Linked DNA regions of Homo sapiens: region 1 is linked to region 2. The links come from fine-mapping of genetic effects on gene expression. A gene starts in region 2. The other region holds a variant in brackets. All regions are shown on one strand. Distances are between the middles of the regions. Region 1 overlaps LY9 (lymphocyte antigen 9). Region 2 holds the start of CD244 (CD244 molecule).

What was found. PIP is the estimated chance that this variant, and not a neighbour inherited with it, causes the effect.
Region 1: its variant is the best candidate, but not a certain one, in a credible set for the expression of CD244 in whole blood (TOPMed, PIP 0.65).

What each region holds. Positions count from the first base shown.
Region 1 is chr1:160,822,452-160,826,845 of GRCh38, forward strand. It overlaps LY9 (lymphocyte antigen 9), which reads left to right. Exons shown (of 10, transcript NM_002348.4): 8 at 1,014-1,345; 9 at 1,730-1,798. Among named protein-coding and RNA genes, the nearest start is that of LY9, 28 kb to the left of the region's middle. The variant T/A (reference allele first, on the strand shown) is at 2,481.
Region 2 is chr1:160,860,506-160,864,899 of GRCh38, forward strand. CD244 (CD244 molecule) reads right to left here and starts at 2,382. Exons shown (of 9, transcript NM_016382.4): 1 at 2,112-2,382. The coding sequence starts at 2,172. RefSeq lists an enhancer at 2,198-2,247.

The DNA of each region.
Region 1 (4,394 bases), 38 kb before region 2:
CAGTGGCTGGCAGGGAAGGGAAGATGGAGCCGCCATTTTGAAAATGTCTATTCCTTAGTCCCTGCTGGTGTTCACCCATGCAAGCTCCCAGCTTGCAGGCTGCTCTTTGTTAGAAAATGATTTGGGGCTGCTTTTCAATAAAAAGAAAAGCCTGACCAAGGACTCCCATATCCTTACTATCTGCCTAAGTAATTTCTTCTTAACTCCTGTATCAAAATGGGCTACTTCATGTGCCCCACAGGCAGGGTTGACATCCACCCAGTGTGCCATGACAGCGTTCACAGCATATCCACCCAGTGGGCCACACCGGCCCTCACAGCGCATCCACCATGCCACTGTTCACAGGTGCCCATGCTGATTGCCTAAGGCCTGACCATTGCAATTGTTAAGTATTTTTAATATCATCCTTTCGGAAAAAGAGACTGCTCCAGGCTTTACACCTGCCTCTAATCATGCTGTTCCCTCCTCCACCTAGAATACCCTTCCACTCATCGAAATATTGAATCCCTATTCAAGACCCACCTCAATTCTGCCACTTTCATGAGTTCCTCTCTGCTTCTCTAACCAGAGTCATCTCCTCTCAACTCTGCACTTTCCTCATACGTTCCATAGGATACTTGGCAAAGCTGGCCTTACATTACTGATTTACACATGCACCTGACTCCCCAGCTAGACAGGGTGCTCCTCCAGGGCCAGGTCTAATTTACCTTTGTGTTTCCCCAGAGTACCTGCAATGATGCTTGGCATGGTTTATCCCACAGGGCCAGAGAGTTGCTAAAGTCTATCACATGTCATATTTAATATTTATCAAATGAATGAATAAATGAATGCTTGAAAGGAAGGAGGAAGGGAGAGTGGAATGGACCCCCTGAGGGAAGACAGGACAAAACAATCTCCTTCGGTTCTCTAGGCCTCATCTAATGCAGGCATCAGAGCAGGCTGGGGCCTTGCAGCAAAGCAAGAAGAGAGGTGGGGTTGGCATACTTTTATCAGCCCTGCACAATGTGTTCCAGAACCCACAGCTGGCCACACGCTATACTCTGTGCTCTCCCAAGGATATGAGAAGCTGGACACTCCCCTCAGGCCTGCCAGGCAACAGCCTACACCCACCTCAGACAGCAGCTCTGACAGCAACCTCACAACTGAGGAGGATGAGGACAGGCCTGAGGTGCACAAGCCCATCAGTGGAAGATATGAGGTATTTGACCAGGTCACTCAGGAGGGCGCTGGACATGACCCAGCCCCTGAGGGCCAAGCAGACTATGATCCCGTCACTCCATATGTCACGGAAGTTGAGTCTGTGGTTGGAGAGAACACCATGTATGCACAAGTGTTCAACTTACAGGTGAGCCCTTCTGATCAATACACCTTCCTCCTCCTCCCATGTCTAGCGGCATCTGAGATCCTGGATGACTAGTTCCTCCAAACTGGGGGCTGGGGCCTGGAAACAGGACTAGGGGCATACGGGCAGGGACTCATGGCTGTGTCCATGTTTACCAAACCTTGGGATCCTGTGGAACGAGGGACTTGTCCCTCAGCTCTCATTCTTGGGCCACTAATAAGGAAGGTGTTGGAGAACCAGAGGCACCGTCCCCACTGCACTAAGGCAGCTCCCACCCTGTGTGTGAGATGGGAAGCCAGGGGGTATCCCCTCTCCTCAAGGGTTGAGGGTAAAACTGAAAAGCTCTCATGTGGTCACTAGGGCTCATCTGCTGTTGGTGTGTTACAGGGAAAGACCCCAGTTTCTCAGAAGGAAGAGAGCTCAGCCACAATCTACTGCTCCATACGGAAACCTCAGGTGGTGAGAACTACATTCTCTGTATCCCAAGGCCCACAGAGTGAGGAACTATTCCTTAGACCCTTTGAACTGAAAATCCGAGATTCCCATGGCTAAGGATCTTAAATTCTACCCACTATGCACCCCTCAGATACATTCCATGGTCAACAGAGATGCATAAACAAATATTCCTGACATCTGTGTGACCAAAGGCTGAACATTTCTAATTGATTTAATAATATCTTATGTTGGTTATTTTTAACACTGACCTGAATGACAGCTTATACACTCAAACAAGGTAGGGTCTTTATAGCTTTTTAAATCTATCTCTAACCCTAATCCTAATCTACCTAAATGACAACTTCTCAAAACCATTGAAAATTAGCTAACAATTTAACAACAAGAATTTTTGGAAAATACACCACCACCTACAGTACATTAGTTTTATTCTAGTGTTTAAAAAAATCCCAGCCGGGCGCGGTGGCTCATACCTGTAATCCCAGCACTTTGGGAGGCCAAGGCGGGTGGATCACAAGGTCAGGAGATGGAGACCATCCTGGCTAACATGGTGAAACTCCGTCTCTACTAAAAATACAAAAAAAATTAGCCAGGCGTGGTGGCAGGCGCCTGTAGTTCCAACTACTCAGAGACTGAGGCAGGAGAATGGCGTGAACCCAGGAGGCAGAGCTTACAGTGAGCCAAG[T/A]TCGTGCCACTGCACTCCAGCCTGGGCAACAGAACAAGACTCCATCTCAAAAAAAAAAAAAAAAAAAAAATTCCCAGCCTGGGCAACATGGTGAAACCCTGTCTTTATAAAAAGTTCAAAAAAAATTACCCAGGCCTGTGGTGGTACACACCTGTAGTCCCAGCTACTTAGGACACTTAAGTGGGAGGACCGCTTGAGCCGGGGAGTTCAAGGCTGCAGTGAGCCAAGATCATGCCACTGAAATCTAGCCTGGGTGACAGAGTGAGACCATGTCTTAAAAAAAAAAAAAAATCCCTTACAGGTAGAATTTATCATTAAATAATCATAATGATAATAATAACTGACTTGCTTTTATATGAAGTTTTGCAGTTACAATACCTTGATACACATTCTTCTTTGATCTTTGTAATACTTCTAGAAAAGTGTTGTCATCCACATTTTATAGCCAAAGAAACAGATTCAAGGAAGTTAATTTTGCCTAAGGTGACAAAGATAGTACTTGGAAGTTCCAGTATTAAGAACCATGAGGCGTTTTAAGATCATCCTGAGTAATCTTAAATAATTCACCTTGATCTGGCTGTCCATTTCATTTTCACTTTCCTGAAAACATCGTGTCCATTCATACTTTTGCTTTCAAATCTCCCCCAAATTCCCTCCCTATAACATATTCAAAAAAATATTTTTTAAAAAACTCTCGGCTGGGCGTGGTGGCTCATGCCTGTAATCCCAGCACTTTGGGAGGCCGAGGCAGGTGGATCACCTGAGGTCAGGAGTTCAAGACCAGCCTGGCCAACATGGTAAAACCCCATCTCTACTAAAAATATTAAAATTACCTGAATGTGGTGGCAGGCACCTGTAATCCCAGCTACTCAGGAGGCTGAGGCAGGAGAATTGCTTGAACCCAGGAGGTGGAGGTTGCGGTGAGCAGAGATCACACCATTGCACTCCAGCCTGGGCAACAAGAGCAAAACTCCATCTCAAAAAAAAAGAAAAGACTACAGTTGACCCTTGAACAATTCAGGGGTTTAGGAGTGCCAACCCCACCCCACTCCATGCAATCAAAAATCATTCTATAACTTTGACTCTCCAGAACTTAACTACTAACAGCCTACTGTTGACCAGAAGCCTTACCAAAAACATAAACATTTGATTAACACATATTTTGCATGTTACGTGTATTATATACTGTATTCTTACAATAAAGTAAGCTAGAGAAAAGAAATTATTAAGAAAATCATAAGGAAGATAAAATATGTATACTATTCATTAAGTGGAATTGGATCATTGTAAAGGTCTTCATCCTCACCTTCACATTGAGTAGGCTGAGGAGGAAGAGGAAGGGTTGGTCTTGTTCTTTCAAGAGTGGTAGAGGTAAAAGAGGTAGAGGAGGTAAAAGGGGAGGCAGGAGAGGCAGGCACACTCAGTGTGATGTTTATTGAAAAAAAATCTGCATATAAGTGGCCATGCAGTTCAAACATATGTTGCACTTATGCCTGGTGTTCCATTATTGGAACACTAAGCGTGTAGGAGTTATTTATATTCTACTGCTCAAGATCATCACCAGGGTCTGATTTTTCACTCATGCACAAATTCAAAAAATTGCAACCTCCTGCGTAAATGGGTTAAAGTTACTTGACTACTTAATAAATTGTATGCACAGTTCCTAAGGGTTTTTCAGAAGCTGAAGGTGGGGGATATCACTGCACTGTGGTAAAGAGGAAACACATCATGAAAAAGGAATTTGGGTTGGGCCTTAAAAGATGGATAGAATTTGCTCAGTAAACACTTGTTGGGATGTGTGGTTTGGTTCAACCATCATCCATCTCATCCTGACTTCTAGACAGTAGTCTAATGCTTAGCCAGCTAGAGACTTTGCCTTGGAACCTAAGGCCAAATCTGTGCTGTTCACTGCAT
Region 2 (4,394 bases):
ATTTGATGGTATTAATGTTAAATTTACTGAATTTGACAATTGTGCTGTAGTAACATGAGAATGTCTTTGTTCATAGGATATAAGTGCTAAAATATTTAGGAGTAAGGGGACATAATGTCACAACTTGTTCTCAAGTGGTTCAGCAAAAATTATTGTACATTTATACACACATATACATACAGCTAGAGAAAGAGAAATAAAGTAAATGTGATAAAATGTTAATTGGTGAATCTAGATGAAAGAAATTCAAGAATCGTTTGAACTATTCTTGCAGCTTCCCTGGAACTTCACAATTATTTCAAACTAAAAAGCTTAAAAATTAAAGAAATAGAGCAGCTTCAGTCAACTTATGCCAGGCCTGCCCTATAGACACAGGATGGAGGAGGAAGCAGCTCAGGAAGACCCAAGTCCATCCCTCCCTGTGCCTAACAAGTCACTCACCAGCTTCACCGTGCAAGGGCCGGCATAGCCAAGCCCAGCTATGGTGCTGAAGCCCTGGGAATGGGGGTGGAGGGAGCATTGCCCTCTGTCACACAGGCTCATGACCTCAGGGTCATAACCTCAGCTTCTCTGTTACTCTCATCCCCACAGCCAGGCACCAATCCCATCAGTCCTCCTTCGGCTGTCTGAGCTGCATTCAAGGATCCTTAGACCAGGTTCCAACCTAGCTCTCCTGCCTAGAATCCTGGGCCACTAGGCCCCCCAACCCACCCACAAGAGCTGCAGGCTCCACTCCTCCCTCCCTGCTCCCTGTTCCTCATCATGCTCTGCCCTAGGCTGCCTGCATCCTTACAAATGTTGAGTCCACCTGAGCCTTGACTGTGTCTTCCTGAAGGACACAAGAATGCTCAGGGACTCGGTAACTGAATTGAGTACCTGGGCATGGGACTTTATTGCATATGGGGCTTCTACCTGGCCCTGAACCCACACAACACTATGCCTCAGTTTCCCCTCTTTGTGCCCAGAGTGTACCCTCCTCTAATTCCACGCTCTCCACCTCCGTGAAGCCCCTGCAGAGTCACTGATCTAAAATGCAGAACCCTGGCTGGGCATGGTGGCTCACACCTGTAATCCCAGCACTTTGGATGGGGGAGACCAAGGTGGGCAGATCACCTGAGGTCAGGAGTTCAAGACCAGCCTGGCCAACATGGTGAAACCTGGTCTCTACTAAAAATACAAAAATTAGCCAAGCATGGTGGCGCACGTCTGTAATTTCACCTACTCGGGAGGCTGAGGCATGAGAATCACTTGAACCCGGGAGGCAGAGTTTGTAGTGAGCCAAGATCACGCCACTGCACTCCAGCCTGGGTGACAGAAGGAGACTCTGTCTCAAAAAATAAATAAATAAATAAAAATTAAAAATGAAATAAATAAATTAATTCAATTAAATTAAATGCGGGATCCAGGTTTCAGAGCATCCTGGACCCCAGAACTGGAGAAAGAGGGGAGCAGCCCTCAGCTGGGATCCCCAGGAGTAAATGTTAGATGGCTCCATGCCTGGCTGACAGCTTTAGGTTTGCTGTGGAGCTTCCTCATATTGTCTCCTTCTTCTGCCCCAACCCTGCATGTCCCTAATAATTTCCAGGCTCCTGTGGCATCTGGATGGCTGAAGAAGCCGGGGAGATGAGGGACCATGCCTTCCAGCTTCTTCCTGGCTGCTGGCCTCGCCCTCCCCTCCCTGGGCTCAGCTTTCCTGCCTCAGGGGTCCATCCATCTGTCTCTGAGCTCGAGAACCACCCACTTCCTTGGGACTGCTTCTCTTCTCTCATGCCACAATTGGAGGATGCAATTTTCATCATCTTTACAGGCGGCTGGAAGGAGGCTTCTCTCTCCACTACACGGAAGGGTAAATTGAAGCCAGTGGGAAGGAATCTCCTCACCCAAGACTTCCTGGATTGCTGGTGGCAGGGCCAGATACCCCTCTCACAGACCTCCCAGTGCACTGCCAGCCTGTCCTGTCTGATTTAGACTGTCAGAGCTGTCAGGAGCTGCTCGGAGTCAAGTTCCAGATGACTGTGTATGTGGCACAAGCAGAGGCTCTGGCTCTGATCTCCCTGAGGGGCACAGCTCCTAGTCCCTCCCTCGCCCCACGCCAGGTAGGACCTCCTTACCTTTGCCCTGATACACCTTGAGGAGCAGGAGGAGTATGAGGGTGACCACTTGCCCCAGCATTTCCACAGGACAGAGGGGCCAGGCCAGCCCCTCCACCCCACCAGACTCTCTGCCGTGCACGGGCTCAGCAGTCCCCAGTCAGCAAGAGGACGATGGGGAGCAGAACTGCCTTGCAACCTGTCCAGCCACAGTTTCCTCAATTAGAGGCTGTTAACGCCTGCTGTGAGCTGACAAGGCCACTGAGAAAGCCCCAGCGCCTGGAGCTGGTCTGACAGTTCCCACAAGCCAAACTGGTGAAGCTTACCTCAAGTGGGAGGGTGCTTGAAGTTCACAGTGACTCACAAAGCCAGTTTCAAAATTGCATCCCGTTCTCTGCTTCAGCCCAAGAAGTCTTCCAATTCTCTGAATCCTATATGGAGAGACCCCCATGGGGGCCAAACAGCCAGTATCCCCAACTGTTCCATTCCAACAGACATTGTGGAGGTGGAGTGGAGAGGGGCTGGAGGAGGAGTGGGCTGAAACGTAGGGCCCTGGATAAGCGGCTAACAGTGTTGAAGGAAAGGAGGAGTAGCTGAGAGAACATAGGAAGAGACCTAAGGGCTGGAGGCACTAGAAAAATCTAGCAAGCCTGGGGATTCCATGCAAGTTGACACCAAAGTTTAAGCACATGTAAATTAAATTTGTTTCATAAGAATTTGTTTCACACGGGGCACAGTGGCTCACGCCTGTAATCCCAACACTTTGGGAGACTGAAGCAGGCAGATCACTTGAGATCAGGAGATCGAGACTAGCCTGGCCAATATGGTGAATCCCCACCTCTACTAAAAATAGAGAAATTAGCCAGGCTGGGTGGCGTGCACCTGTAATCCAAGCTACTTGGGAGGCTGAGGCAGGGGAATCACTTGAGCAAAGGAGGTGGAGGTTGCGGTAAGCCAAGATCACGCCACTGCACTCCAGCCTAGGTGACAGAGCGACACTGTGTCTCAAAAAAAAAAAAAAAAATTTTGTTTTGCTCCACATTTCCGATCTGTATGCCTAGATTCCCTCCCTTCCTCTTTTTCTACTTTTCTATAGTAGTCCTCTCTTCCCTCTTTTGTCTTCTCCCAGAAGTGACATGGGCCTATTTTTGCTGCCTTCCCATCCATGCTTGGACGCCACCCTCCAGGAAGGCCAGGCAGCTCTGGATCTGCTTAGGCCCCCATGGAGGGGTGGGGACAGCGGCATCCCCCCTCCCCTGGAACACTGTGCTTCAAGGCCAGGCCCCAGGGTTCATGCCTCTTTCTTTCTTCCTTCTGCTTTCCCCTTAACAAATACTTTCAGTTCCCTTCAAGTCCGCTCTTATTCTCTTTTTCCATCCTTTGGTCCATTTCCAGCCACCCTGTCTGAACTGGGCAGGGGGCAGCAGACTGACAGCTTCAGCTGCCAACAGAGGCAGCAGCGGGGCTCTGGACAGAGCGCTGGATTTAGAGTCAAAGACTTGGACTTGCAGCTCCCATTCAGCAACTTACAACCTATGTGATTCTGGCCTTGTTGCTGTCTGAGCCTGTAGGGTCAACAATACATCCTCCCCACCTTCACAAGGCAGTTTTCAGGATCAAATTAAAAATGATACTCCAGAATATGCACACAAAAAACACTGGACATAGATGAGGTTTTTGTGGTTTTGTTTTCATTTTTTTAAGCTCTGAATAGCTTTTTCCAGCGGGTCTAATGGTTATCATCTCTTCTCTCCTTTGTCTGCTCCCAAGGGGCAGCCCTCAACCCTGGGGAATTTCTTCAGAGTTGATCTGGCCATGTCCTTAACCTTGAGAAGTGGTGCACAAGACATGATATAACAAAGAAGGGTAAACTTCCTCACACGACAGGTGGAAAACAAGATCCAGCTGTTGGAACCCACTAATGAATGTGAATTAGGAATCAGCCTCTCCAATCCTGACCCCAACACCAGCTCCATCCTTCCCACCAGGCATGTGGATGACCTATCATCCCCTGGAAACAGAACTCGGAGCAGCTGTACCACTGAGTGTGTGTCTGTCTTGTGGTCCCTGACAAACTCTATCACACAATATCTGCTATTTGTAGGCTGATCGCAGTGGCTCATGCCTATAATCCCAGCACTTTGGGAGGCCAAGGCAGGTGGATCACTTGAGGTCAGGGGTTCGATATCAGCCTGGCCAACACGGTGAAACCTCATCTCTACTAAAAATACAAAAATTAGCCGGGTGTGGTGGTGTGTGCCTGTAATCCCAGCTACTCGGGAGGCTGAGGCAGGAGACTCCTTT